Regions from separate parts of the Homo sapiens genome. Here all the other regions are linked to region 1. Evidence: fine-mapped expression QTL. A gene starts in region 1. Each other region holds a variant in brackets. All regions are shown on one strand. Distances are from middle to middle.

Region 1 (4,000 bases):
GAAGGGAATCTTAGCCGCGCCTCAGGGCCCGGAATGCCCCTCCAGCTTCACTTCCAGAAGGGCAGAGCTTTCCGGAATGGCGGGGGGCACCAAACCATCGTGTTTGGGGGAGTTTCCACTGGGCAACCGGTCACAGTTTCGCGAGGAACGAGTAACAAGCGGAGCGAGCTCCCAGATGGGAACGCTGCGCGGTCGCCAAGAGCTGCTCCTCCCCGGCTTGGAGTCCCCCAGAGGAGTTCCATCCGGAGCAGGACACCGGAAAGTGGGGCTGCTAGCCGGACTGCGGCAGCGCATCACCCCTAGAGTTGGTTTTCTCCCGACAACTCCAACTCCGCTCTCCCGCGGAGCTGTGTTCCCAGGAGGCTGCCGCGGCCGCTGCTAGGCTGCGAAGAACAGAGGCGGGGGAAGGGGCGGGAGGCGGGGAGCTGGGCCGGGATTTCCCACAGGGATTCGCGAGCGCTACCGAGCGCCCAGGCTCCCCGCTGCGCCGGGCACGGTGTCTTTGGAGCGCGCTTTCCCAGCCACCAAGCCGGAGGCACCGCCAAGTCTGAGCTGGCAGAGAGTGACGCTGCCCGACGACTCCCGGCCGCCGAGTATCCTCTCCGGGGTGGTGGAGAGGCTGGGAGACTTTAGGTAGGACCGACCACTCACCCCAGCCCACTCCTGTTCCAAGGCTCAAGAGGCGAAAAGGGTTTCCACCTCTCCCCGACTGACCCTGGAAACCTGCAGTCCCGCAGGCGCCCGGACCACCAGACTGGTCCCCAAGGGTACGGCCAATGAACTCCACCCCTCTCCTTCGGCGGCCACTTGCGGGATACCACGGCAGAGCTTCTCCGGCCCCCGCGCGCAGTGCTTGCACGCCAAGCAGAGTCCACTAGCCCGTGGACTGCGAGCTGGAGAAAAGGAGGTGGCGCGCGGCTGCTCAGAAGCGTATCCGTGCCTGGGAGCAGACGGGCGCCAGTACTCCAGGAGCCGGATGGCCAGAGGCACCCCTTTCTCCCCAACGCCCAGCTCTGGCTCTGCCCCAGAGCTAAGGAGCATGCACCGCAATGCAGCGGGCTCCGAGCTCTCCGAGCGGGGGCTGCGGGAGACCGAGGCTACCAGGGAGTGCCGGGGCGAGGAAGCCGGGGGACTCGCGAGCCAGTTTCGGGCGCTAAGAGCCAGCCGGGGGCGCTCTGGTGGGTGCCGCCCAAGCCCCGCGCTCGGCAGCGGCCGAGGCTCCCAAACCTCCTTGCCCTCGGGTCCCGGGATGCCTGCACCGCAAAGCAGCCAGAGGAACCCCGCGAACCGCGGAGCACAGCAGTCCCAAGGCGGCCGGCACCAGCAGCCAACTTGCTCCGTGGAGGGTACGTTACCTTCCATCGCAGCCACTGCGGATGCCAGGAGGAGCAGTAGTAGATAATCCAGGGCCATCGCCGGCCGACGGCCCGCAGGCCGAGACCAAGCCGAGGCAGCAGCGCCGGGAGAGCGCCGCGTCCCAGGGCGCCGCTGCGCTCTCCGCGGGTGGCTTCTCGGTATCCTTTCGCGCTCTCGCCCGGACCGGACTTCCCGGAGCGCTGCGTGGGCGTGGGCAGGAGTGTGTGCGCGTGGGGCGGTGCGGGCGCGCGTGGGTGTGGGTGTGCATGTGTGTGTGTGTGTTTATGGGAGAGGTGGGTGTGTGCGTGCGTGTGTGAGAGAGAGAGGGCGAGGGAGAACGAGCCTGGGAGAGCGCGCGAGAGCGAGTGCGTCCTGGTGTCACATTGCTAGCTACAGCGGAGCCTACGGGAGGACGGAGCCGGCCAGACTGACGCGGGAGGGAGCGGGATCCCCCACCATCAGCTCTCTCCCCACCCCTAACACCTCCTGTCCAATCAAGGAATCAAACCTGCAAAATTCCCCCGGCCAATCAGGCGCGAGCACCTCCTTACACTGGCATTGTTAGTTTAAGAAAAACTTTTGCTTGCAAGGCTGTGCGGGAGGGCTCGGAAGGCGCTAGGAGGGGTCCGGGCTCCCCCTCGTGGTGCTCTCGGAGAACCGCAGCGGCCCGCCCAACTCACCCTGTCCCCCCATAGGGTGCCCAGCGAAGGAGCTGGGGAGGCCTCGTGCCCTTACATCCCACCCAGGACTGGATCCGCTTTAAATGATCAAACGAGCCTTCGTTCATCTTCTCTGTGACAAGAGCACCCTGCCTACCCTGTTTAGAGCAACTCCAGGGGCGCACCCGTGCCTCTCCTCCAGAGCTCTTCACTCTCTAGCATGGGTTGGTATTTACTAATCGATTTTGTTTATCGTGGGGTCTCTCCCTCATTAAAATGGGGTCACCATTTTCGGATTCTTGTCTATTTTGTTCACTACAGAATCCACAGTTCACAGAACAGTGCCTGGCCTGCGGGAGGCATAGTACATGTCCGTCGAAAGAATGAATACTGTTCAGATAACCTGTGGGCACTTGCTCCAGGGTCCACAGGGAACCGGATTTGCTTCCTGTCCAACGTTTCGCAGTTCTTTTTCTGCAGAAGCCTCTGGTTGCCTTTGGTGTTCACTTCCCAGTGCATTGTGAACTTCCACAGAGGGCCCTGACCCCAGAGGACAGCTCAGCGTGGGGAGACCAGGAGTCACACAGTCAGCTATAAAACAGCAAAGCCTGCAAGAGGGCTCTCCCAGGCCGGTGCAAGGCGAGGTGCACTGTTGCTGTGGGCCAGGCCTTCAGTGTGGGTGGGAAGGACTTAGGCAGCAACTGGGGATGCAGCCTTGGAGATAGGAGCAATTCTCCCAGGCTCAGCTCTCACAGCTACACTTTATCTTCCTGTTTCTGGAGATGGTCAAGGGTTCTAAATCAGAAACTCACCTTGAGGCTGTTATATGTTATGCTGGAGATGTGTCCTTCCCTCCTCTCCCGCCCCCCCTACATACCTGATGATAGTCTGGTCCTACAGGGTCAGGGATGACCCGTTAGGTTCCCCACCCCTCCTCCTACGCCTCTCACCTTGGAGGCACCAATCCTTTCCCCTGGTCTGTTAATGAGCTAACAGTGGGCAGATGCGATATTTCCCTTTGGGATGACTCTCCTTTCTGGGCTTTTCTAAATCAGTTCCCCACACCCCCCACCTCTGCGTGTCTAGTCTCTCCTTTGCTGGGACTTCTTCCTCTCCACCACAGCCAGACTCAAGTCCCCCAATCCTGACAATTCTTTCCTTCCCTGGCTCTGACTCAGGCTGCCTTCCTCCTCCCCTCCCCTCCCTCCTACCCCACCTCTGTGCCTGAAGGGAAGATGTCATCAACCTCCACCTTCTCATCATCCACCTTAATGCCATGTTAGCTGCCCTCTACGCCTCCACACCACCAGCTGTGTCGTGATGTCCCTGGAGCCACCTGATGTCACCCTGGGCAACAACCTGCTCCTAGTTAGCTGTCATCCTCCTGCACCGTCAGCACCTGCTGACATTGGTGTCCAGTAGATCTTTTGGGGCTCTGGCCCCAGTTTCCATGGTCCTGCTTCTCCTCCTACCCGTCTTGCCACTTCTTACTGTTCCCTCTGTTACCTCTTCAGCTTTCAAGAGAGGTATCCCCCAAACTCCATCCTTGGAGTTCGTCCTCCTGGGGTACATGGGCAACTCCTTGGCAGCTTCACTTGCTTTTTTACCCCCAGCCATCCCCTCATGGATGGACAGGTGGATGGATGGATGGGTGAGTTTCACACTCTTCCCTCCCCCTTTCACTATATCACAGTCACTTGGTAGGCATGTCTGGCAAAGCCCCGGCTCTGCCATGTCCTCCTCCTTATGCCCTTGTCCTATGCCTGTGCATCTGACCCAGTGTAAACCCATACTACCTTCCCCTGGACAACTGGAGAGTCTCTGAATGACAGTCCAGCTTCCCTCCCTCCCCTTAATCCCTCCAAACTCTGCTGCCAAACTCATCCTTCTCAAGCCAACCTTGATCTTGTCTCTTCCCTGCATAGCAACCTAGTGGCTCCTCACTGTCTGCTGAAGAGAGACTGACCACTCTAGCATGACATTCA
Region 2 (4,000 bases), 110 kb before region 1:
TCTCTGAATATCTCCCAATAATTCCATCTATCTCTATATCCACTGACATTGCTCCCATACAGCCACAGCCCCCTCTCTCCTAGGCACCTGCATCAGCCCCTAACTACTGTCTCGCCCCCTTTCTTGCACCTCCCAAATTCACTCTTCATCTCACAGACAGGTCGGACTTCTATAAATGCAAATTTGATTATATCTGTCCCTTATGCAAAAGCTTTCAATAGCTGCCCATGGATCTCAGAGAAAAGTACAAGCTCCCTTTCCCTCCTCCTCCACATTGTCACTGTCATCAGCATCACAAATAACAAGTATTGCTCCTTTCCTATTGGCCAGTCACTGGTGCTGAATATGTCACATCCACTCTTTTAACATCCACAACCCCTTTAAGAGGTAGTTACAGGTACTGCGTTCACTTGACAGATGAAGATACAGAGGCTGAGGGAGTAGTCCACATTTCTACAGCTTTGCTCTGTCTCTGCCTCCTGCAGTTCTCCCTGGCCACCCACACAGCTCCCCAGAATTGCCCTCAGTTCCACCCCCATCCTCTCTCATGCCCAAGCTGCACCCATGGCTTCCTTTGCCTTGAACGCCACCATTCCTTTCCCCTGGATGACTCTTCTTGCCCTGCTGGCTGTAGCTTAGAGGCTGCACTCAGTGAGATGCCTTTCCCATATGGGCCACCAGTGGCTGCCAAGCCAGCAGGTGAGAAGCCTGTGGGGAAACCAAACTGGGCCCAAACCTGCCCAAGCCTCCAGGTGTAACTCTCAGTTTGCAGGATGTCCAGGGAACCAAGGAACCAGGAAACAACACCATGGGGATACAATCAGCAAAACCCAGACCCTGGGAAATGCTATAGGACATGTAGCCTGGTTTATCCAACAAATAAATTAAATGAAAAATAAGAAAAAATAAGAAGGGCGAAGGAGCCTAAGGAGTCTTTTAAGAGACAAATCAACCAAGTGTTACGTGTAGATTTTGTTTAGATCCTGATTTAAATAAACCAACTGTAAAACTTTTATGAGACACACAGGAAAATCTAAACACTGACTGGGTATTTGATAACACTAAAGAATTAGTGTTAATTATTTTAGATGTGATAATAATATTGTGGTTATGTTAAAGAAAGAAAATATGTACATATTAATGTAAAAATATTTAAACTATGCTCAATAAAATTATAATAAGATTTAAAAAGTTTTTTTTTTAAAAAGAAGTTCCACATCCCAAGCCCCAAGTGTGAATTAAATTAGGTACTGTATGAATTCTTAGAGTCCCCTAATTTTTCATCAGACCAGTCACCACATTTGCAACTAACAATTTCATTAACATCATTCTTCCCCATGCAACTGTATGCTATGTGAGGACATAAATGTGTCTGTTGGTCCATTGAGACCTTCCAACACAATGTATGCACACAACACCCTCCAACACACACCCATGTGCCTCTCACAACTACATCCACCTGTACCAACACACAAATGCACACCATGTACACACCCATGCCCCCTCACACCTACATACACCTGTGCTCACACACACACATGCACCCAGGTCCTCCTCACACCTACATACACCCATGGCCACACACAAATGCACACCACACACACTTGCTCTTATGTCCTCACATGCTTTTTCCCATCTCTCTGCCAGGTCTACCTCCTCACTGGGCCCCGTTAACCCAGGCAGGAGGGCAGGAGGAAGAGGAGTCATGACATCCTGGAGGCCTGAAGTCCATGTTATTTTAGATGTGTACTTAAAATATCCTGATTTCTCAGGACCAAGATTCTACCTCTCCACCCACCCTCTAAGCTGCCCTACCCACACACCACCAGTCTTATTCCTTGACTACCATTTTATTCTATTTATTCCTGGTTCCAAATCCTTTTTAGGTTATCTCTATTCAGCTATTACTACTACAAAAAAAATAAAAATAAAAAATGAGCAGCCAGCAAGCACAGGCACTTTGCTGGGACCACTAGGAGACCTAAAGATGTAAAAGGTAAGATTCCTGCTTCCAAGGGCCATGGCTTCTCAGCCAGAACAATCTCCATGACAGTCATCATGTCTGAGCACAACTGTGGCCTTTGCCTGCCATGACTCCCCAGCAGCCTATGAGACAGGCCCTATTGTCACATTTCTATAGAAGGAGAAACCAAGGCTCAAGAATCCAAAGCCTCAGTATATACTGCAACCAGAGCCCGCTTCTAACCAGAGTCTTATCTAGCCCCAAAGTCCATTCTCCTACAGTGGTTTAATCACCA[T/A]AGACACAATGACCTCCATAGTCCATGTCCTACAACTCCCAGCCTGGAACAAATCTCTGGGTCCATCAGTCTACTACCTTGCAAACTCACCAGGTATAGTCATGACTCTCTGTTATACCCTTGCTGTGCCCCCACCTGGAAAGCCCTTTTCCTGGAGAAGCTCCTCCAGGCATGGTAGCATGTGCCTGTAGTCCCAGATATTTGGGAGGCTGAAGCAGGAGGATGGCTTGAGCCCAGGAGTTCAAGGCTGCAGTGAGCTATGATCATGCCATTGCAGTCAAGCCTGGTGACAGAGTGAGACCCTGTCTCTTCCAAATAAAACAAACAAAACAAAACAAAACAAACAAACAAAAACAGAAGCTTCAAGTCTAAGAGTGTGTTTTGAGTGGTTGAAAATAAGGAAGATATCAACTTTAGGATGTGATAAACACTATATTTAGAAAGATATTTATTCTGCCTTTTGGGAAGTGAAGGAGAAATGAGGGAGCTTGAGTTGAGGCTTAGCGCTTGAGTAGGAATGTGCTAGTCAAAGAAGCATGGAAGGTCATTCTAGGCAGAAGAAACAGCAGGGCGAAGGCACTGAAGCATGCAAGATCTGGGTGTTTTGGGGGGTCAACAAGCTGCCCAGTGTAGAATCTTTGTGCAATGAGGAGAGTAAAGGAACATCGCAGGCCAATCTCAGGACCAATCTCACTCCCTACCTAGAAGAGCTAGCAAAAACACTCCACAATCCCTGAAGCCCTGCAGCTGAGAAGGATGGTAAAGATGATGATGATGATGAACTTCATGCATCAGGGGTCTAAGGTGTCTTTTCTGTTCCTAACTACTCCTGGGAATTGCCCTGTCAACCCTCAAATGGTGTGAAAAGCCCATGAATCCATGTCTCCTCCTCCACCCCACAGTCCAGCACACTGGGAAAATAAGAAAATAGAAAGTGATAAGTAGGGATGTTTTCCTCATCTATTGGGAGACAATCAAGAACTGACACATGACATCCTCCAGACCATGCCTCCCCGACAGTGCCCTCCACCCCCACTCCCTGCCCTCCAAGTGGAGGCTGCAGAGGTCTTCTGAAGACTGCCTAGAGTCAGAGTTCCAGGGTAGGCCTGAGCTCCAGGCTGGTCCACAGCACACCCAGCACTGCACAAACTTCATTCCAATGTGGAAGGAAAATGTCAAGGTGCTTCCCAAGGCCTGAAAGCTGAGCTCCCCTGAAGGCTGGATCCATGTCCTGAGGATCCCTGGAACTCCTCTGCTTGAAAACGAAATGACACACGTGACAGGGCAGACATTCCCACTCCTGAGCAGCAGTTGTTTCCTCCATAAGCAAACAGACCCTGTACAGACATTGCTCTCCTCTCACAGATGGGTGCCTAGAAAACACAAAATTGCTTCCAGACTACAGATTGTGCCGAAGCCCTGTATCACCTGCTAGCGTGCAGACTCTACCGTCACTTGTCTGGAGTCTCCAGGGAGTTGGGAGCATGGGGGTTGGCCTGCCACCAAGTACAGAGAGAAGCTGAATCAGTGCCATTCGATAGGGCTTGGATTTTAGATGACAGGGTCAGAAAAAGGAGGTCAGGCTCTCCTCCTTTAGATGAAGAGGAGTCAGTGGAGACTGGGCTGGAAATCCTACACACTCAGCTTCTCAGCCCCATCCTGCCATGAGCAGCACTTGGTGTCATCATGATCAAGTGATTTTTTTTCATCTGAAAATGGGACTGTTAATGACATCCATTTAT
Region 3 (5,048 bases), 340 kb after region 1:
TTATCTGATCAGAGCTATGACAGTATTTCCCCTTCCTTGGCATAGAGATGATTTAGGAAGCACATCTTGATAGAGAAAAAAGCTGTAATTTCTGATGTTGGCTATACTGTCCCTCATTAGCTAATGGTTCTATGACAGAAGATAAAAAATGATCTTGACAGGCAGGAATAATGTGTCCCAAATTGCAAAATGTAATTTAGAAAGAATGTAGGCAGTGCCCTACAGTTAGGTTCCAGAAGCGCCCTGCGGAGGCTCAGGAGGCTGAGGCCAAGGCTTCAGGAGTGCCAGATCCCATCCCAGCAAGTCTCGGATCGACTGGCCATGCTTGGACAAATGACTAGCTTCACTGGACTGCAGTTTTCTCATCTGGAAAGTGAGAATCTTAAATGGGTGATTTTTCATGTACTTCCCAAATTAAAAACAATTGTTTGCCAACAGTAGGAGGATAACCTAATAAATCCTCATGATAGAATATCAGGCAACTATTGTAAGTCCTATGTTTCCCAAGAATAATTGATAACCTGAGAAAGTGCTTGCTACATCATGTTAAATTAAAATAAAAAGTAGGGGGGAAAATTAAATATGGATTACGGTTCAAAGGTTGCTAATAAAAATATATGCCTGAGAGAGAAAAAGACTAGAAGGAGGTGCAAAAAGTATTAGCAATGTTAGCCATGGGTGACTTATTTTTTATTATTTGAAGCACTTCAAATTGTATGTATGATTACAAAGGCAGTAAGTGTTGGATTAGAAATTCCAATCATGCATGAGTATAAAAAGTAAAAATTAAAGTTTCTCCTCTCACTTCCATGGCCATTCCCCAGTTGTAACCTCTGTTAACACTGTGAAATAAATAACATCTCACCAGGTATGAAGCTGAATTTCCTAAAAACCTCCTTTGTTTCAGGCAGTCTGCAAAGAGAAGCTAGAGACGTAGTTAATTCTTCTTAGTAGTAGTAGTAGTATTTTTTTTTTTTTTTTTTTTGAGACAGGGTCTGGCTCCATCACCTAGGCTAGAGTGCAGTGTCGCGATCATGGCTCACTGCCACCTCCACCTCCCAAGCTCAAACCATCCTCCCACCTCACGGGGTGCGCCACCACAGCTGGCTAATTTTTTTGTATTTTTAGAAGAGATGGGGTTTTGCCATGTTGCCCATGCTGGTCTCGAACTTGTGAGCCCAAAGCAATTTGCCTGCCTCAGCCTCCCAAAGTGTTAGGATTACATACGTGAGCCACCACACCCAGCCTAATTCTTATTTTTTTCACTGTAACTTAATGACTTTCCTAAACTACCTTCAATAAATACATTGTTTTTCTAACAATAAATAAAGGATGATATTTCTATGAGGCGGGTTTCTAATGAAGCAGAACTGAGAGATATAGTGAACTTCCCAAAACAAAACTGCCACAAGTGTAGGTAGGTAGGGATGGGACCTCTGGCAGGGATGCTGTGCTGAGTTAAATGACCAAAGAGGAAAAGGGTTAGAGGTTTATGGTATAAGAGGTGCTGGAGCACGTCCTGGCCCAGCCTTTCTAGGTGGTGGAGAGGCTGGCAGAGTGAATCGAAGGAGCTATATCTTGTGAAGGTAGGAAAAGCTGGAGTGGCTCCTGAGACCAGACTATGAAAGAGAACACCAACCATGAAAAGCAGGTACCGTGACATGTTACACTGAGAAAGCCAGGACAAACACATTCCTTAAAAAAAAAATTAATTTCTTTTTCCAAAAATGAAACAACAGACATGATTTTGTTCTCCCCCGACTCCCCTGTGCATTCAGAGTGCCTATGTTTTGGTCCCTAAAAATAAGGAAAAATCGGGGAGGGTTTGGAACATCCTCTAGTTGTTGCCAGAAGGTAAGGATGTTTTCTGGGATATTTGAGGCAGTGCTGATAGAACAAGGAGCTGGCTTGTAGGGCCTCCCACAGGCTGAGCTGGGACACTGAGCATCAAATGGGGAATCATAAATGTAACTGGTTCAAACAGTTCGGGCTTATGAAAAGCCAGAGGACAATAATACTCAAGAAAAAGTTAATATTGAGACTACAAATGACCTGGTTAAAATAAAAAAAAAAACAATGAATATGCAATGAATATGATACAATAGATTATTTTTAAAGTAATTTTAGAAGACATGAAAGAGAGAGACTTTGTGTGCATACCTATATACACACATACACATATCCACACACCTATGTACACATACATAGGGTTATTTTATTTCTTCTGTTAAACAGATATTTATAAAGTAAAAATAAGTTCTTCAAGTGTAAATTTTTT[A/T]AAAAAACAGAAATTGTGACTAAGCCAAGGAAAGCCAGAAAAGTAAGTTGCTGTTCCAAGAACAAGACCCGCTGACTGGTACCAGAGGCCACAGACAGAGCCTCGTGGGAGGAGGCCCAAAATTGGCCAGCCAGGGTGGTCACTCACAGTAGCCAGTTACAAAGAAGTCAAGTGTGGGTTCCAAGATAACAAAGGAATCAAATGTCCCGAAGATGATGCTGACTGGCCCGACTCGACTTCAAGCTACTCATAAAGTTACACCTGCAGGGATCCTAACCAAGCCCAAGAACCACAGTGGCAGGGCAGAGGGTCAGGAAGCCAGTGTGCAAACCTTAGGGGTCAATCATTTCTGGAAAGACATCTCCCTTCCGAAAATTAAAATCTGCACCAATTCCAGGGAACTAAAAATTAAGCTAAATTATCAAAGGGCTTCAGCCTCAGCCTGACCCCCGGAGACTGGGATTTAAGGTACAAGTTCCTGGTCCTACTCAAGAATTTACAGCTCACATCCCACAATCTTGGCTACTCTAAATGAGCGATTGTTTTTTTCCTTTGGGGGTGGAAATCCTAGGAAAAGAACTTAAATGAGAAATTAGAATAAAAGAAAGAATAAAGATACAAGCAGATAAAATAAATAAATCTAGGTACTAGCACTTTAATAAATGGTTTCAACATAAGTTTAATAATTAGTGTTATAATCACTGTGATATTTGGGTTGTTTTTAAAAGTATTTGAAGCTTTTAAGAAAATCTGATATAATGGATTTTAGAATATGATAAATATCTAGAAGATTAATAATTTGCAATCAATTGGAAGCTTTTAATCAAATAAAGACATTTCAATTTATAATTGTGTGAATATTGTGTGAACATGTTGAGAAATATTTAAAGTTAATGGAATGCTAATTATTTGATAAATTTGGAACATTAATGAATCACTAAACAGGGTGCAAGAGTAGTAATTCTTCATCATCCTCAAAAGCCTTCAAACATTAAAGACTTGTTTATGCACATGCTTGGAAGCCAGATATGGCCGTACTTTGTTAAGGACACCATTGGCTGAATTGCACCAGGACGTGGGGAAGGAGAGGAGTGGAAAATCCACCTCCATCCTAACCAGAGGAACCCCTGCCGCTGCCATAGGCAGCCCCCTGAACAGAAGGCTCAGTCTCAGCTGGTCAAGTTTTTAAATGTGACCAGTGGTGTGACACCCTTCTGTGGTGAGAGTGGCAACAGAAGCAGCAACAGCAACAGCATGGAAACTTCATACATCTCAGAAGCATCAGATGTGATGCTTGATCTCTGGCTTCTGGAATAGGTCTGAGTTCTGCTTTCACCCCAAACACCATGCAGTGTTTCTACCAAAGATGAAACACAGTAAACACAAGTTAACAGCCTGGACACTTCTTGGTTTATCCCAGCAGGGTAGACCCCAGGAAGGAGGAAAAGATGAGTTGGGATTGGAGACTTGAAGTCTTCCATTGGAATACTGCATGAAGAAATATGATCTTAATTGTACCCAAGCTGCCGAAGTGGGAAATATTGGTTACTTTTAAATCTGTGGCTCAGTTGAAGTGCTGTTGTTTTATCCCCTATTCACTTTTATCTCCAGCTAGCTATACCCCATTTCTCCTCCAGAGGACCCCCTCTCCTTCATGCTCAGTACCACTCTGTTCCTGAAGCAGTTGTTCCCTTCCCCCTGCTCTACCACGGGAATGTAGTCTGGACTGGCCAATCAGAGCATCGCGTTTAAACTCTGATGTGAGCCTCGTGCTCTGGGGACAACCAAGTGGGAGGCTAGAATGAACCCAACACAAAGGAAGGCTGAGCCAAAGACTGGGAGAACCAGCCTCTGAACTTTGACTGTCCTGGCGCATGGACTTTTCATTTAGATGAGCCCTTAAGTTCCCCTGTTGACTTAAACCAATTTGATTTGGATTTTCAGTCATTTCTTAATGAGAATATCCTAATGGATATAAGTGTATCTGAGGGCTTCTGAGGATCTGGAAAGTTCACCAGGGAGAACAGCTGAGGTGATGTTATCCTGGGGAAGAGAAGACTCTAAGACTACAAGCTAACTCTCCTCAAATATCATGCTAATGAATGTTACTGGAAGATAAATTCAATAGGTAGATGAGTTTTCTAATAACTAAAGTTGTTCAACAAAGGAACCGCCTTCTTCAGAAGGAGATGAACTCCCCAGCCAAGGATGAACAACCACCTGACAAGGACATTGGCACTGAGATTCATTCACTGGGTGGGAAGCATGAATTTCAAATGACTCTTTTGACACAAACAGTTAACAAAAAGTAAGAGAAGAAAAACATCACTAGGGAAAATAAGTGGAGGTGCTATAAAACTCTGCAAAACCCTGGTTTAACCAATGAGAAGTTTTGGTGTAGTTTTTTGAATCCGACTTGATCTATAGCCCCCTGCTGTTTAGCAAGAGAGTTAACGTGGAAGTCAGAGATAACACTGCGAAGAGAAAAGGCCTAAACACTTCTCTCTCATATAACATGAACTGTTTAAATGGGGATTCTGTAGCTGTGGTGGAATGCCAAGTGCAAAACCAGTGTTGGAGGAGAGACCTGGTGGGAGGTGTTTGGATGAGTGCAAAACCACTCAGCCACCATGATAATGAAATATTATGGAAGGGACCAGCCAGAAGCTTGGCAGGAATGAAGAATTCTAGATACACCTGCATATATGTGTGATTGTGGAAGTGACCAACACTGTCTCAGATCCCACAGCCTATAGTCAATCAGCAATTT
Region 4 (5,048 bases), 200 kb after region 1:
CGTCTTTTCCTGCCTGAGGAAGCCCTGCCTGGCCTTTGTGGATCAGGCCAGCCCACCACTCTGTCAGACCTTCCTAGTCCTCCCACTGCCCAAGCCATGGGGAATTATCTGCCTATCTTCCATGTTCATGTCACACTTTGTTGCTCATCTGTTAACCCAGAACCTTCTACAAGATTCTGGGATTCAGGAAGTACTTGGAGGTTCTGCCCCTAGGATGTGAATTCCTTGAATATATATGCTTTGGTTCTGCTCCTCGGCACACAGTAGGTGTTTGGTAAACGCTTGGCAAGTGTTTCACTGGGAAAACTAAGACAGACTAGGAAGACAGGGCCAGGAAAGTACTACTGCCTAGCAGTCCATAACCATCCACTGAGCATTTGTCAAAGCATGTTCCCATTTCACCAGGTCTAGCCCTTGTGTTTTTGCCCAACTCTGTATGCCACATACTGGACATTGAGGAGGGGAACCCAAGATTCTCTCAGAGGAGGGCCACATCCTGGGGAGGGCTGGGAATGTGGGGTGAAGTAACCACCCTGGAGGAGGCTGAGGATGCAGCTAACAGTGGTCTTCAAAGGAAGAGGCCCTTTACCAAGTCCAGCATCTAAAAGAGGACACATACTGACTACTTGGAAGATAGAACAAGTCCTGAAAGTAGGACTTGGTCTTGACTAGAGAAGGATGGCCACCCTGCCTGTAAAGGTGGGTAGCAGAGGGTTGTCAGGCATTCTTTGGCTGTGAACAGTTTTAATGGAATTTTCTTTCCTTTATCTAGATTTGTTCCCGCTCCAAATTTTCCCCATGGCCCTGTTTGAAGATTATATAACCTAAGCTTGATGCTTCTATTTAACCCAGAGTGACATAAAAATTTAGCTGAGGGCACCTGCTGATCCCATTCCCACCCACCCACCCAGAGACCAACAAACAAACCTTTCCACGGGAAAGCTTCTAAAGCCCCAGAAGAACCTGTTTTCTCGGGAAAGAGCTGCAAAATGGCAAATATAGCTATTTAGGATCTAAAGGCATTAACATCTTCTACAGCAAAGCCTGAGTATGTGGGGCTGTCTTGAAGACCGTTGATATATTGGAAAGTAATGCTCCAGGGAACACTCAAACTCATGGTTTCTTTGAGCACAGTTGTCCTCAAGGCTGATCCTCTGAAGAGGAGCCCCTGCAGGATGAAGTGTAAAAAAGACAAAGCACCACGAAGTGGTATCCAGTGGTATCCAGTGTATCCAGTGGCAAAGCCAAGCCATGAAGGATTGAGAATGAGAAGGCCACCTAGACAGGGCCCACCAAGAGATTCCCTCTCTCCAATTAAACCAGCACTCTAGATGTTTAGTCATCATTGCCAGGGGTACTGGGTTTAGACAGATTCTGAGGCCACAACTGGGTTCACTAGGAAAGAGTGTCATGACTAGCTAGTGATCCATAGACAATGGATTGAAGGGTGAGGTGTGCCATGTATTTGCCAATCCCAGCTTAAAGGTAGCTAAATCAGGGCTCAGACCAAAATAATGAAGGAGACTGTTTAGTCCGTTCTCACACTGCTAATAAAGACATACCCGAGACTGGGTAATTTATAAAGGAAAAAGATTTAATTGACTCACAGTTCAGCATGGCTGGGGAGGCCTCAGGAAACTTAACAATCATGTCAGAAGGGGAAGAAAACACATACTTCTTCTCATGGCGGCAGCAAGGAAAAGTGCTGAGCAAAAGGGGGAAACACCCCTTATAAAATCATCAGATCTTGTGAGAACTCACTCACTATCACGAGAACAGCATGAGAGTAACCACCCCCATGATTAAATTACCTCCCACTTGGTCCCTCCCATGACACGTGGAGATTATGGAAACTACAATTCAAGATGACATTTGGTTGGGGACACAGCCAAACCATATCAGAGGCTATTCAGACCAGTGGGGAGCACTGGCTTCCCATTAAGCTAGCCCATGGACTGACAACCAGTCAGCTTTCAAACCAAAGGTCCCAGGATGTGCTGGGGGCCTCCTGACCTCACCTGAGCTCCAGGAGGATTCCACGCAACATGCATGCCACCCAGCTCAGAGGACACAAATGCACACAGGCATATCAACTCTAGGGAGAAGGAGCCTAGGCTGAGTGTGTTTGCTCTTTTATCTCCATGATTAAACAGTGCCTTGCATTTAGAATAAGTGATCAGTAAATTTTTGAAGTGAACATTGCCTTGT[C/A]ATTTCAAAAACAAAATGATAGATCTCTGGGTTGTTTACATGGCTGTTGACCAAAACAGCTGTTGAGTTACAACATCCTAAATAGTCATTTCCTTCTTTTGCTCAACTAGGAAAGCATATGCACAGCAGTGTACTCCTTTGCCCCTGTGGGAAATGTATATTTACAAGAGGAGAAAAATTGCCACCTGGCTGGGAGTGCTCATGGTGTTTGCCTCTGGGAAACAATCAGTGCATGGGCAACCAATCAATGGGAGGAGTGCCGTTCTTCTCGGGGGAATCCGCCCGCCCTGAGCATGTGCCGAGATTGCTTTGTTTCTATCAGGGGGAATGGCTGACTGCCTCTGTGACACAACGAATCAGCCATCATTTCGCCCTGGCTGTGCAGGGACCAAGGCAGTGACGTCCCCCTTTATGGTGGCAGGGGCAGCTATGGAGAGGCTGGTGGCATGAGGGCAGAGGGGCAGCCACAACTGTGAGTACACAAGAACAGCTGGGCTGAATGACTGACGAAGTGCAGATATTAGGAGTGGGGAGCCCCTGGCAGCTCCCATCTGGGTAAAGGATGGTGGTGAGGAAAAATGAGGAAGCGTTTATTTAGAACAAAATGACGGTGGGATTACAGATTTCCTAGTGAACACTTTGCTCATATTTATATTTGTATTTGAATGTATGTGAACACCAAGGAGATCTGGAAATTAACATCCACCATTTTATTCTATTTAAAAAGTTAAATGAAGCCAAGATACTGGCAGCACTTGAAGGCTGTCCCCTCCTCCTATGCCCTTTGGGATAGCCCCACCCTAGGGACTGGGCAAGTGTGGGTACCATGAACCTTTTGGCATTCATTTCATGAGTATCAGATCCCCTTCTCCATCTCCCAGGAGCAACACAGTGGAGAGAACACGTTAACCTGATTGTGGGAGGGCATCCACTCTGGCAGTGAAAGCTTCACTTGACATTTTTAAAGCTCAACAAGAGTGTTAAAGTCTATCTTTAAAAGAAGTGAATGGGCTTCCTCTGGAAAGATGGCCTCTTAGCCACTGGTCCCCTGTTAGACTGAAATCTGTCTTGTGTGGTCAGGAGCCATTAATGTGTGATTGAAGCCTCGAGTTTTCCTCTATACACATTGATTTCACTTGGAGAAGCCCTGTGGACCCCTCCTCCTCCTCAGCGTTGGCAGTCATGAGCCTGGGGAAGCCTGTGGCTCAGCCCCTGTTTGACAGCAGGTAGGAGAGTGTGCCAGCTAAGAGCACACACCTGGAGCTGACCGCCTGATTCCTAACCCCAGTTCTGCCAGCTCCCAGCTGATTTGTGCAAGTTACTGAACCTCCCTGTTTTTGTTTCCTCATCAGTAAAACAGGGATACTCATAGCACCTACTGTGTACACTTCTTATGGGGATTAAATGAGCTAACATATGGTACAATGACTAGAAAAGTCCCGGGCACATAGTAAGTACTCAGTAATTATTGGCTACCATCACGATGCATCAGTCATCATCAGCATAATGAGGATGACACTGATGTATTGTTCCCTAAGGAATCCAAAAGTCTCAAGCCCCTCATAAAATTGTGGCAATCACTGATTTCAATGCAGAAATCCCATATCCAAGACGCAATCACCCAGTCTTTCCTAGAATCCTTCCAGGGACCAGGAGCTCTCCACTCCATGAGGCAGCTGTCCATTACTGGACACCTATGTTAAGGCCTTACCTATACAAAACTGCCTTAAATTAGGGCAGCTGAGCCAATCCACCCACTGGGCTCAGTGAGTTGTCTATTATATGATGGGACAACCATGTAGTGGGAGCCCGGAATCACCAGTACAAAGCCTGGCTCTAGTCTGAGGGTTCCGGGGACTAGGTAGGAGCAACTGCAATATACTCAGACACGGAAGGGAGCCAAAAGAGCAGATGAAAAGAAAAAGAAAACCTTCCACTCGAGAGAGCTGTAAATCAACATACGAAACCACATGAAGAAAATTAATAGTTAAAAAAATTAATGAATTGTTTTCAAAAATACAATCTGCATACTGAATGGTGAGACCACCTCAAACCCTGATGTTATTTAACTCCCCAAACCTGGCTGGCTGACTTTTGTCCTCAAAGCAAAAACTGGAGGGTATCACTGAGAAAACAGATCAACCTAAGAAAAAAGGCCTACAGGTACCATCTGTAACCACCACCCCAGTGAAAAGACCAGCACCCCATTTGCCCATCTTTGGGAAGCCAGTCAGTCAGTTCCTCCATACACACACACACACACACACACACACACACACACACACACACACACCAGTTTGCAGATGGCATTTGTGGTTGTTTGAAAAAATGTCCATGAATTCTTTGGTGCTCCTACATTCAAAAGGAAGAGCCTAATTCCCATCCTTTTATGTGCAGGCCATACTTAGTGACTCTCTTCTGACAAATAGAATGTCGCAGAAATGATGGTGTGTGACACTCAAAACTAGGATATAAAAGGCATTATAGCCTCCTCCTTATTCTCTCCAGATCACTTGCTCTCAGCAAAGCCAGCTGCTAGTTGTAAAGATGCTCGAGCAGCCTCTGGAGAGGCCCACATTTTGAGGAACTGAGTGAGTCCTCCTGCCAACAGCCATGTGAGTGAGCTATCTTGGAAGCAGCTCCTGTGAGGATTTTGCAGCCCTGGTGAGCTTCTTGACTGGAACCTCATGAAAGACCCAGAGCCAAAACCACCCACTTTAGCCATTCCTAAATTCCTGACCCTGAAAAATTGTAAGGTCACAGAAAACTTATTATTTGAAGCTGCTAAATCTGGGGGTAATTTGTTACACAGCCGTAGATAGCTAATAGAGCATTTTAGT
Region 5 (4,000 bases), 410 kb before region 1:
CTAAGAAATGCATTGCCAGAGACCTGCACTACAAAAAATGTTAAAGGTAGTTCTTCAGACTGAAGGAATGATGCCAGAGGGAAACCTGGATCTTCAGGAATAAAGGAAGAACAAGAGAAATGATAACTATTTTGAGGCAATGTAAAACATTTTCCTCTTGATTTCTTTAAAATACACATGGCTGTTTAAAGCAAAAATTGTAACATTGTCTTTGGGACTATAAATGTATGTAGATGGAACATATATAACAATGATAACATAAAGAGCAGTGGGAGTGGATGGTTAAATGGATCTATATGATATGATTATGTGGTCTCTACATTTTATGTAAAGTGGTACAATATGAACTCAAAGTAGACTAGGAAAAATTAAGACGTATATATTATATATGCATATGTTACATATTATTATGTTAGTTCTAGAGTAACTATGAAAAAAGTAAATGCAAAGAAGTAAAGCTGAAAATCAAGAATAAGTAAAAGTTAAGTGTCTGCCCATCTCTGCCTGTACATGGGGTGGAGAGGGATGCAATACCACCGCGTCTCTGTGCCTCATCCAAGGGCCAGTAGAGCCAGTGGCAAAGATGACGGCTGATTTGGACTCTACAGAGAATCCTTTGCTGGGCCTTTGAGAGGAAAAGAGGGAAAAGTAAAGCCAGAGAAACAGGCTTTCTAGAACATCACAAATGACCAAAGTTGAGCAGGGAGTCTGGCACACTGTGGGGCCAGAGAGGGAATCACAGTGTCCTGAGCATTGGACTCAGAGTCTGGAGAACGAGATGGAAGGGCCAAAGCTGCCGCTGCAATAGCACGCTGTGTGGCTTGAGTAACTCACTTGACCACTCTGGGCTGTGGATTCCTCATCCAAAAGTGAGGAGGTTGGGTTTATGGCAAATTCTTATTTCTTAATTGACTGTCAGGAGGAAGGGACAATTGGACAGCTACTGTTCCTATCTTATGTACATCTGTATTGGCAAACTGGGCTCCTTCATGTCCAGAACCAGGCTCTTTTCCCATTCTATCCTTTCCCAAATGAAGTACATTTGCACGCACTGTTTTGTTTCTGTTTGTATGCCAACGATGACTCCTAAATGTGCATCTTCATTTGGACTTCTCCTCTATGCCCCAAACCCACATATTCAGCTCCCTATTCAGCAGCTCTACTGTGATATCCTATAGACATATAAAAGTCAAAATGTTTAAACAAGTGTCTCTCAGAATTTTCTAAGTATCAAAATCATATGGAAAATTTTAGTAACAATGAAAAGGTCCAGACTATTCTACTTCAATGAGTCTGTGCCTCTGTGCTCTGTATTAACTCTCCAGGTAAATCTGATACTCAACAACATTTGAGAATTTGAGAATTGAGAATTTGAGAATAACTATTCTGAACCAAACCCACAATCTATTCCCAACTCTTCTACTCCTTCAACCAATTTCTCTCCAGCATCCTCACTCTCAGAGAATGGAGCCATCACCCATCCAGAGGCACAGGCTGGATACTTGGAGTCATCCTCCGCCATCTGTCACTTTCACCTGTAAGTGGCATCTGCTGTCAAGTCCTTCTGCATCACCCCACTAGAACTTCTGGGATTCATTTGCTGCATCCCAGGCCCATTGCCC[C/T]GTAGCCTCCTGATGCATCTTCCTGTCTCTACTAGTGCCTCTCCCACCCATCCTCCATGCTGCAGTCAAGGTAAATTTAAAAATATATATATTTTATTTTGAGACAACTTCAAATATCTATAAAAGTTGCAAGAATACTACAATGAATGCCTGTACACTCTTCCCTTAGGCACCCTATTCCAGCCCAACAATTGTCCTAGAGATGTCCTGTTAAGGATCACATGGTATACCCAGTATCATGCCCCTCAATCTGGAGCAGTTTCTCTGTCTCCTTGACTTTCACGACCCTAACATTTTTTGAAGCGCATAGGCCACACATTCAATAGAATGTACCTCAGTTTTAGGTAGTCTGATGTTTTCTCATGATGAGACCCAAGTTATAAATTTTGAACAGAGTATTGCAAGTATTATGTTCTTTTCATTGCATCCTCTAAGTTGCACAGAATATTTACCTGTCCTATTATTGCTGATGTTGACTTTAATCACTTGATTCAGATGGCATTTGCCAAACTTCTCTGTAAAGTTACTTTCTCCCTCTTTGTAATAAATAAATATTTTGGGGGGAGAAACTTTGAAGATATGTAAAATCCTGTTTCTCTCCTGATGTTCACCTTAAGTTTAAGCATCCATTTATGTTTCTTATCTGAATTAGCTATTAATCTGATGGTTGCCAAATAGTGAGTTTCTAACATCATCATTCTTTCCTCTACAGGGAAGAGCTTTCTCTTGTTTCTATTTGTTCATTTATATGCATATTAGTGTGGACTCAATAGCCCCCATCTTATTCAGTAGATTATAACTTGTTACTATTATTATATATTGTGAGGCTCAAATTATCCAGATTTGGAGGCCCTTCAAGCTGGATGTTGTTTTTGTTGTATGTTCCCATTATTCTTTGAGTACTTTCTCATTTTCTGGCACAAAAAAAAGATGTGTTGGTCTCATCTCACATTTTCCCTCTCCAGGCCTTGGAAGGGGCCATGTCTCTAATGAGTCCTGGTTGCTTTTAGGGGAGTATATGGAATCCAAGATCTGAGAGCCAGCTGTACTCCTTGCTATGTAGATGTTACTGCTTCAAAGCCACTCTCAGCCTATATTTATTTCTCCATTTCTATATATTTAAAACCACCGGTTCACACTAATACCTCCAATTTTGATTCCACAGCATACAATTCATTCTAGCTTTTATGCTTTCCATATTTATACCTCTGTTCCCACAGTTTCCATTATTTCAAATTTATTTTTAAATCTCCCTGTATATAGCTTGTCTCTCAATCTTGCTGAGCCAGCAGCCCATTCACACATGGGTCCTGATCTCTGCTAGGGCTTGCCTCCCTTGTTTAGAACATCTACCCTGGTTGAGTCTGCTTAATGGCTTTTTGGTGAAAGAAAACAGGAAGAAATCCAAGAAAGTTATTTCTAAAGAAGGCAAGGAAAGATATTGGAAGGAAAAGGCTAAGGAAAAGCCAGGCTATTTTTCTAAAATTCAAATCCATCACTTTCGGGCCACACGTGTGCATCTCTCTGTGTGCACAACACACACACACACACACACACACACACACACACACACACACACACACACGTCATGAAAGGTTTCCCATTGCTCTAAGGCTGCAACTCCTATCACAGCGTTTGGGGAAGATCCTACATGATGGACTGCTACAGGCCTCCTTGGATGCTTCCTCCCTAAATCTCCAAATGCCCTAAACAGGGGTCCCTTCTCAGTTCCACTCCATCTTCCCTCTTGCCACAGGGCCTTTGTATATGCTGCCTCTCTGCCTCTGAAGTCCGACCTGCCACATTTAGTTGGGGCAGAATGCTGTAGATTGAATGTTTATGTGTCCCCCAAATTCATATGTTTAAGTCCTAATAATCCCCAATTGGGTGATATTTGAAGGTGGAGCCTCTGGGAGGTGACTGCAGTTAGTTTATGTCATGAAGGTGGAGTCCCCAAGATGGGATTGATGTGCTTTCAAAAGAGGAAGAGGCAAGATCTCTCTTTCTGTGCACATGCCAACAAAAGGCATCTGAGGACATAACCAGGAATAGAGCCCTCAATAAGAATCCAACCATCCCTAGTTAGCACCTTGATCTTGGACTCCCAAGCCTACAGATGACAAGAAATAAATGACCGCTGTTTAAGCCATCCAGGGTGTGGTAGCTTGCTATGGGAGCCCAGGCTGACTAAAACAGTGACTGTTCTTTAAGTCTCTGCTGTAGCACCATCTCTTCCTCTGCAAGCCCTCCTAGACACAGTTAGGCAATTTTGTTATTTATTGTTTTATGCATGCTCTCGCAAAACATAGCGGCCCTTATTTCAGCTGGTAATTATGCACTCATTTGGGCATGTGTTTGATTAATGTCCCCAGTCCTCA
Region 6 (4,000 bases), 370 kb before region 1:
AGAATTCTGCTTTCTGGAGGCAGGAAGGTGGCCCAAATGACCTAGAGAGACCTTTCTCAGATCCTGCAATGTTGTCATTATACAGATGAGAAAATGAGTGTGACAGGGAACTTTATGTTGCACCTTGGTGAAAAGAAATTTTAGTTATAAAAATATTATAAATATAGGTTTATAAAAGAGAGAGGATAATGAGTGAGAAAAACTTTTAAAGGTACTGCTTAAAGGAAAACACTTGGGAGATATCCCAGCACTTTGGCCTCTTGGGCTCTGCTATCTTTTTAATTCCCTACCTTCATGTTCTATGGCTTATCTGTGAATTTGGTTAACAAATTCCCCAGCTGCTCAATTGGATAAGATAAGGCAGAAGATGTTAATAGAGAACTCCATCTTTTCCCACTGAGTCTGATTTGAGGATTCATTGACTTGCTAAACCCAATCTTTTCCCTGCATTTTGTGTCCTATATGGGCTTATCAGTGCAGACAATAATCTACCCACCAGGCATCCAATGAGTACCCATGACAGGTAGACGGCAGATGGGAGGGTAGCCTGTTGCCCCTGGGGACCTGCAGAAAGGTGGCCAAGGCACTGGGGGCTGAGAGAGAACTTGCCACTGGGACCAGCCAGTCTGGCTATAAAGAGAGCTCTGAGCACTAGCCCACTTGACTCAGTGGCCTGTGGGGGTCAGACACCGGGTCTCTGCTTTCTACTTACCTCGGCCTGTGCTGTAATGCTGGAGCTTATCGCTGTACACAGCCTCTTTGCTATAAGCCCGTTTCCTGTGGATAAAAAGAGGGGCTCTCTCAGCCACAGGGCACACCCACCAGTCTGTTCCAGGTACCTCCATCTAGGCCCCAGGCCAGATAGGGGCTCACCCGGGGCATCTCCCAGGATTAGGGACTGGGCAACTCTCACTTCAGCCCTCCTGCTGCAGTTAGAGCTCTTGTTGACCACCACTCACTCCTGTGGGCAGATGGTTCTGCTTTCCAGCCAAGGTCTTGCAGAAGCCTGGCGGGACTGTGGGACCCCATTCAGAGGGCAGTGCTGATGGGGGCAGAGGTGAAGAGGATGTCCATCAGCACTTAAGCTACATTGCAGAACTGCTTGGGAGGGAGCCAACTACAGGGCTTTGCGTGACAGAATCTGGGCTAACCACTGAAGGCAGTAGCAGCAGTATTAAAAAATCACAAGGCTTTCGGGGCCAGCTTTTCTGCAGAACTCAGAGTTTCCCTTTCCTCCTCATCTTCTCTCCTGCCAGCCTGCCTCCCTCTTGCTGGCTGCTGAGAGCCTGAGCTCTCTTAACTGGAGGATGGGTTATGCACAGGCTGGATGCTCCAGTGAGTCAAATGCAATTTTGCAACTGTCACTCTGAAAAGCCATTGTGTGTAAGAGGGGGCTAAAAGTCTTCGTTAAAATGAGGTTTGAGGATGGATGCTGTTTACTCATAGCCTTGCCCAGCTCTCATATGAATTTTTTCCCAGCTAAATAAATATCTAAAGAATTCTAGGCTGCTCTTGGATTGAGATGGAGTGATGATTGTGGTCGTGAATGGTCACACCCTATCTGATCCACGCAGCCTGGGAAACGGCACATGGAGAGGGGCTTCCTGGGTCCAAGGAGAGCAAGTGAGAGTGGAGGACCTACCTGCTACAGACGATAGAGATGGCCACCAAGGACACAACGAACACGACCCCGGCCGCTGCCGAGCCAGCAATCAGGGGCAGCTGCTCCCTCAGCTCTGACTTGTAATCATCTAGGTGAGAAAGAGGCATTAGAATCCTCCCCATGTGCCTTTTGCATACAGCTGATACTCAGTGCACAATACCAAAAACATGATCTAAATATACATATATGTAGAGGATAGTTTCTATGTGTCAGAGTTGTAAGTCTAACCAAAACAAACAGCAATTTTTAAGTTATAAATAAACAAAAACAACCAAAAACAAAGGACAATGAAAACAAAACAGCCGTGACAGAATCTGGGAACTATAGCTGATGACATTCCTGGAGCAGAGATGATTTCCAATCTACATTCCCTCAATTGGAAGGTCTCTCGAAGAACTGTCAGCCATGTTAAGGACATTCCAATGAAGGGGACTTATCTAAATGAAAACCACTGCTGAAATATCTTCTAAAGCATGAAGTTATGAAATGGCACAGAGTCAATAGATTCATTGAGCAGATACTTAAAGAGTATCCGCAGTCAGCCAGCACTACCTCCAGGCACTGTGGAGGACAAAGAAATGCCTGAGAAATGAATGGCCCAGCACTCTGAGTTCCCGCTCAAGAAGAAAATGATCAAGGCTTCTGCCAAATGTTAGAACCATGCTGAATTATGCAGTGGAATGGGAAGCCTAC[G/A]GGTCATAGAGGCAGACAGAACTCATCTAAACCCTGGCGTTACCATGTGCAAGCTTTGTGATACTGGACACACGATTTAGTCCTTCTGACCCTCACACTTCCTGTCTGTTGAAAAAAATCAAATCATATGAAGCACATTTCACCCTGTCTGCTCTATCATAGGTGTCCTAAATACCAAATCTCTTTTCTTTAATCTATACAAATAATTTGGGCCAGCTGGCTAGTATTGGTATTGTCCTGGTTATGCTTTCACTGGTGTTAAAGAACTATTACCTAATGTTCAGGACCTAGGCATAGAGAAGTCAAGCTATTTATGTTCTATTACAATTAGAGTTGCCAGCTATAGCAAATACGAATGTAGGACTGCCAATCACATTTGAATTTCTGATAAATAATGAAAAAGGTTTTAGTATAAGTATGCCTCAAATATTGCTTGGGAGATACTTACACTAAAACATAATTTTTGTTTGTCTGAAATTCAAATTTAACTGTTCATCTTATTTTTTATCTAGCAACCCTAATGACAATACTTCTTTTTTTTTTTTTTTTTTTTTTTGAGACAGTCTTGCTCTGTCACCCAGGGTGGAGTGCAGTGGCACAATCTTGGCTCACTGTAACCTCCGCCTCCCGAGTTCAAGCAATTCTAATGTCTCAGCCTCCCGAGTAGCTGGGATTACAGGCACATGCCACCACACCCGGCTACTTTTTGTATTTTTAGTAGAGATGGGGTTTTACCATGTTGGCCAGGCTGGTCTTGAACTCCTAACCTCAAGTGATCCACCTGTCTCGGCCTCCCAAAGTGCTGGGATTAGAGGTGTGAGCCACCATGCCCACTGACAATACTTCTTAAAGTGAGGTTTCCCATGAGCTATCAGAATTACCTGAGCCCGACTGTTAAACATGACTGTTTCCAGACCCCTCCTCAGATCTACTGAATCAGATCCTCTGGGTGAAGAGCAGGGTATCTGCATATTTAACAAACAGTCCAGGTGATTCTAATGTTCCCCAATGTTTGAGAACTGTCCTTCAACCATGTTGGAGGAGAAAGATTTCTAAGAACAAGGATATTGGTTCTTGAAGCCTCCCATTCTCTAGAATTTTAAAGACGGAAGTCAATTTTAAAGACTGAAGGAAAATTTTCAGTTGCCCTCAGCTGAGACTTTCTGTAATATATGTATTTAAAACATAAAGTTGGCGATAGAAAAATACACAGGGAACCCCAATGAAGCATCCTTAACAATGTCTTTATAAATTAAAAACTTCATAATGTAATATGAAACTTGAATGATTTTTTAAAAATTAGGCAGCTACGTCAAAAATCAGAACAGTGTAGCTAAGAGCAGCCCAGGGCCATAGTGGGTCTGCCCTATGTGGAGGTTACCAGCCCAAAGTGTGGCCATTGACTCTGGGCAGGATTCCACAGGTCCTCCCTGCCCCAATGACCCTATCATCGATCAACCTTCTGACTACCTTCGCTCTGCAGACAGGCCTGCTGCCCCAGTGAACATAATCCGTACCCATGTGTGAACCTCAGTCGTAAGACAAATACTCCCAAATTTGGCCACTTACCAGAACTCTCTTACAACCAGCCCCTCTTGGGTTTGCAAAACTTAACTGCCAAATGTAAAAGAAACAGCCTTCTTG

Alleles and levels. Alleles are on the strand shown, and positions count from the first base shown. SD is a standard deviation of normalised expression in the study named. Not every link is listed here.
With allele T in place of C in region 5, the expression in skeletal muscle of the gene that starts at base 1,785 in region 1 is lower (small effect, 0.36 SD a copy in FUSION).

The links. PIP is the estimated chance that this variant, and not a neighbour inherited with it, causes the effect.
Region 2: its variant is the best candidate, but not a certain one, in a credible set for the expression of EPHB1 in prefrontal cortex (ROSMAP, PIP 0.59).
Region 3: its variant is the best candidate, but not a certain one, in a credible set for the expression of EPHB1 in whole blood (TOPMed, PIP 0.68).
Region 4: its variant is the best candidate, but not a certain one, in a credible set for the expression of EPHB1 in whole blood (TOPMed, PIP 0.59).
Region 5: its variant is the best candidate, but not a certain one, in a credible set for the expression of EPHB1 in skeletal muscle (FUSION, PIP 0.82).
Region 6: its variant is the best candidate, but not a certain one, in a credible set for the expression of EPHB1 in testis (GTEx, PIP 0.68).

Annotation. Positions count from the first base shown.
Region 1 is chr3:134,793,045-134,797,044 of GRCh38, reverse strand. It overlaps EPHB1 (EPH receptor B1), which reads right to left and starts at 1,785. Exons shown (of 16, transcript NM_004441.5): 1 at 1,356-1,785. The coding sequence starts at 1,413. RefSeq lists enhancers at 1,410-1,599, 1,610-1,659, 1,704-1,998, 2,060-2,269.
Region 2 is chr3:134,898,261-134,902,260 of GRCh38, reverse strand. All of the region lies in intron 1 of EPHB1 (EPH receptor B1), which reads right to left. Among named protein-coding and RNA genes, the nearest start is that of EPHB1, 110 kb to the right of the region's middle. The variant T/A (reference allele first, on the strand shown) is at 2,259.
Region 3 is chr3:134,452,763-134,457,810 of GRCh38, reverse strand. No RefSeq gene overlaps it. Among named protein-coding and RNA genes, the nearest start is that of MIR4788, 17 kb to the right of the region's middle. The variant A/T (reference allele first, on the strand shown) is at 2,279.
Region 4 is chr3:134,591,923-134,596,970 of GRCh38, reverse strand. It overlaps a transcript of CEP63 not described here. Among named protein-coding and RNA genes, the nearest start is that of KY, 57 kb to the left of the region's middle. The variant C/A (reference allele first, on the strand shown) is at 2,209.
Region 5 is chr3:135,207,498-135,211,497 of GRCh38, reverse strand. All of the region lies in intron 12 of EPHB1 (EPH receptor B1), which reads right to left. Among named protein-coding and RNA genes, the nearest start is that of EPHB1, 410 kb to the right of the region's middle. The variant C/T (reference allele first, on the strand shown) is at 1,623.
Region 6 is chr3:135,163,719-135,167,718 of GRCh38, reverse strand. EPHB1 (EPH receptor B1) reads right to left here. Exons shown (of 16, transcript NM_004441.5): 8 at 1,643-1,751; 9 at 713-777. Among named protein-coding and RNA genes, the nearest start is that of EPHB1, 370 kb to the right of the region's middle. The variant G/A (reference allele first, on the strand shown) is at 2,357.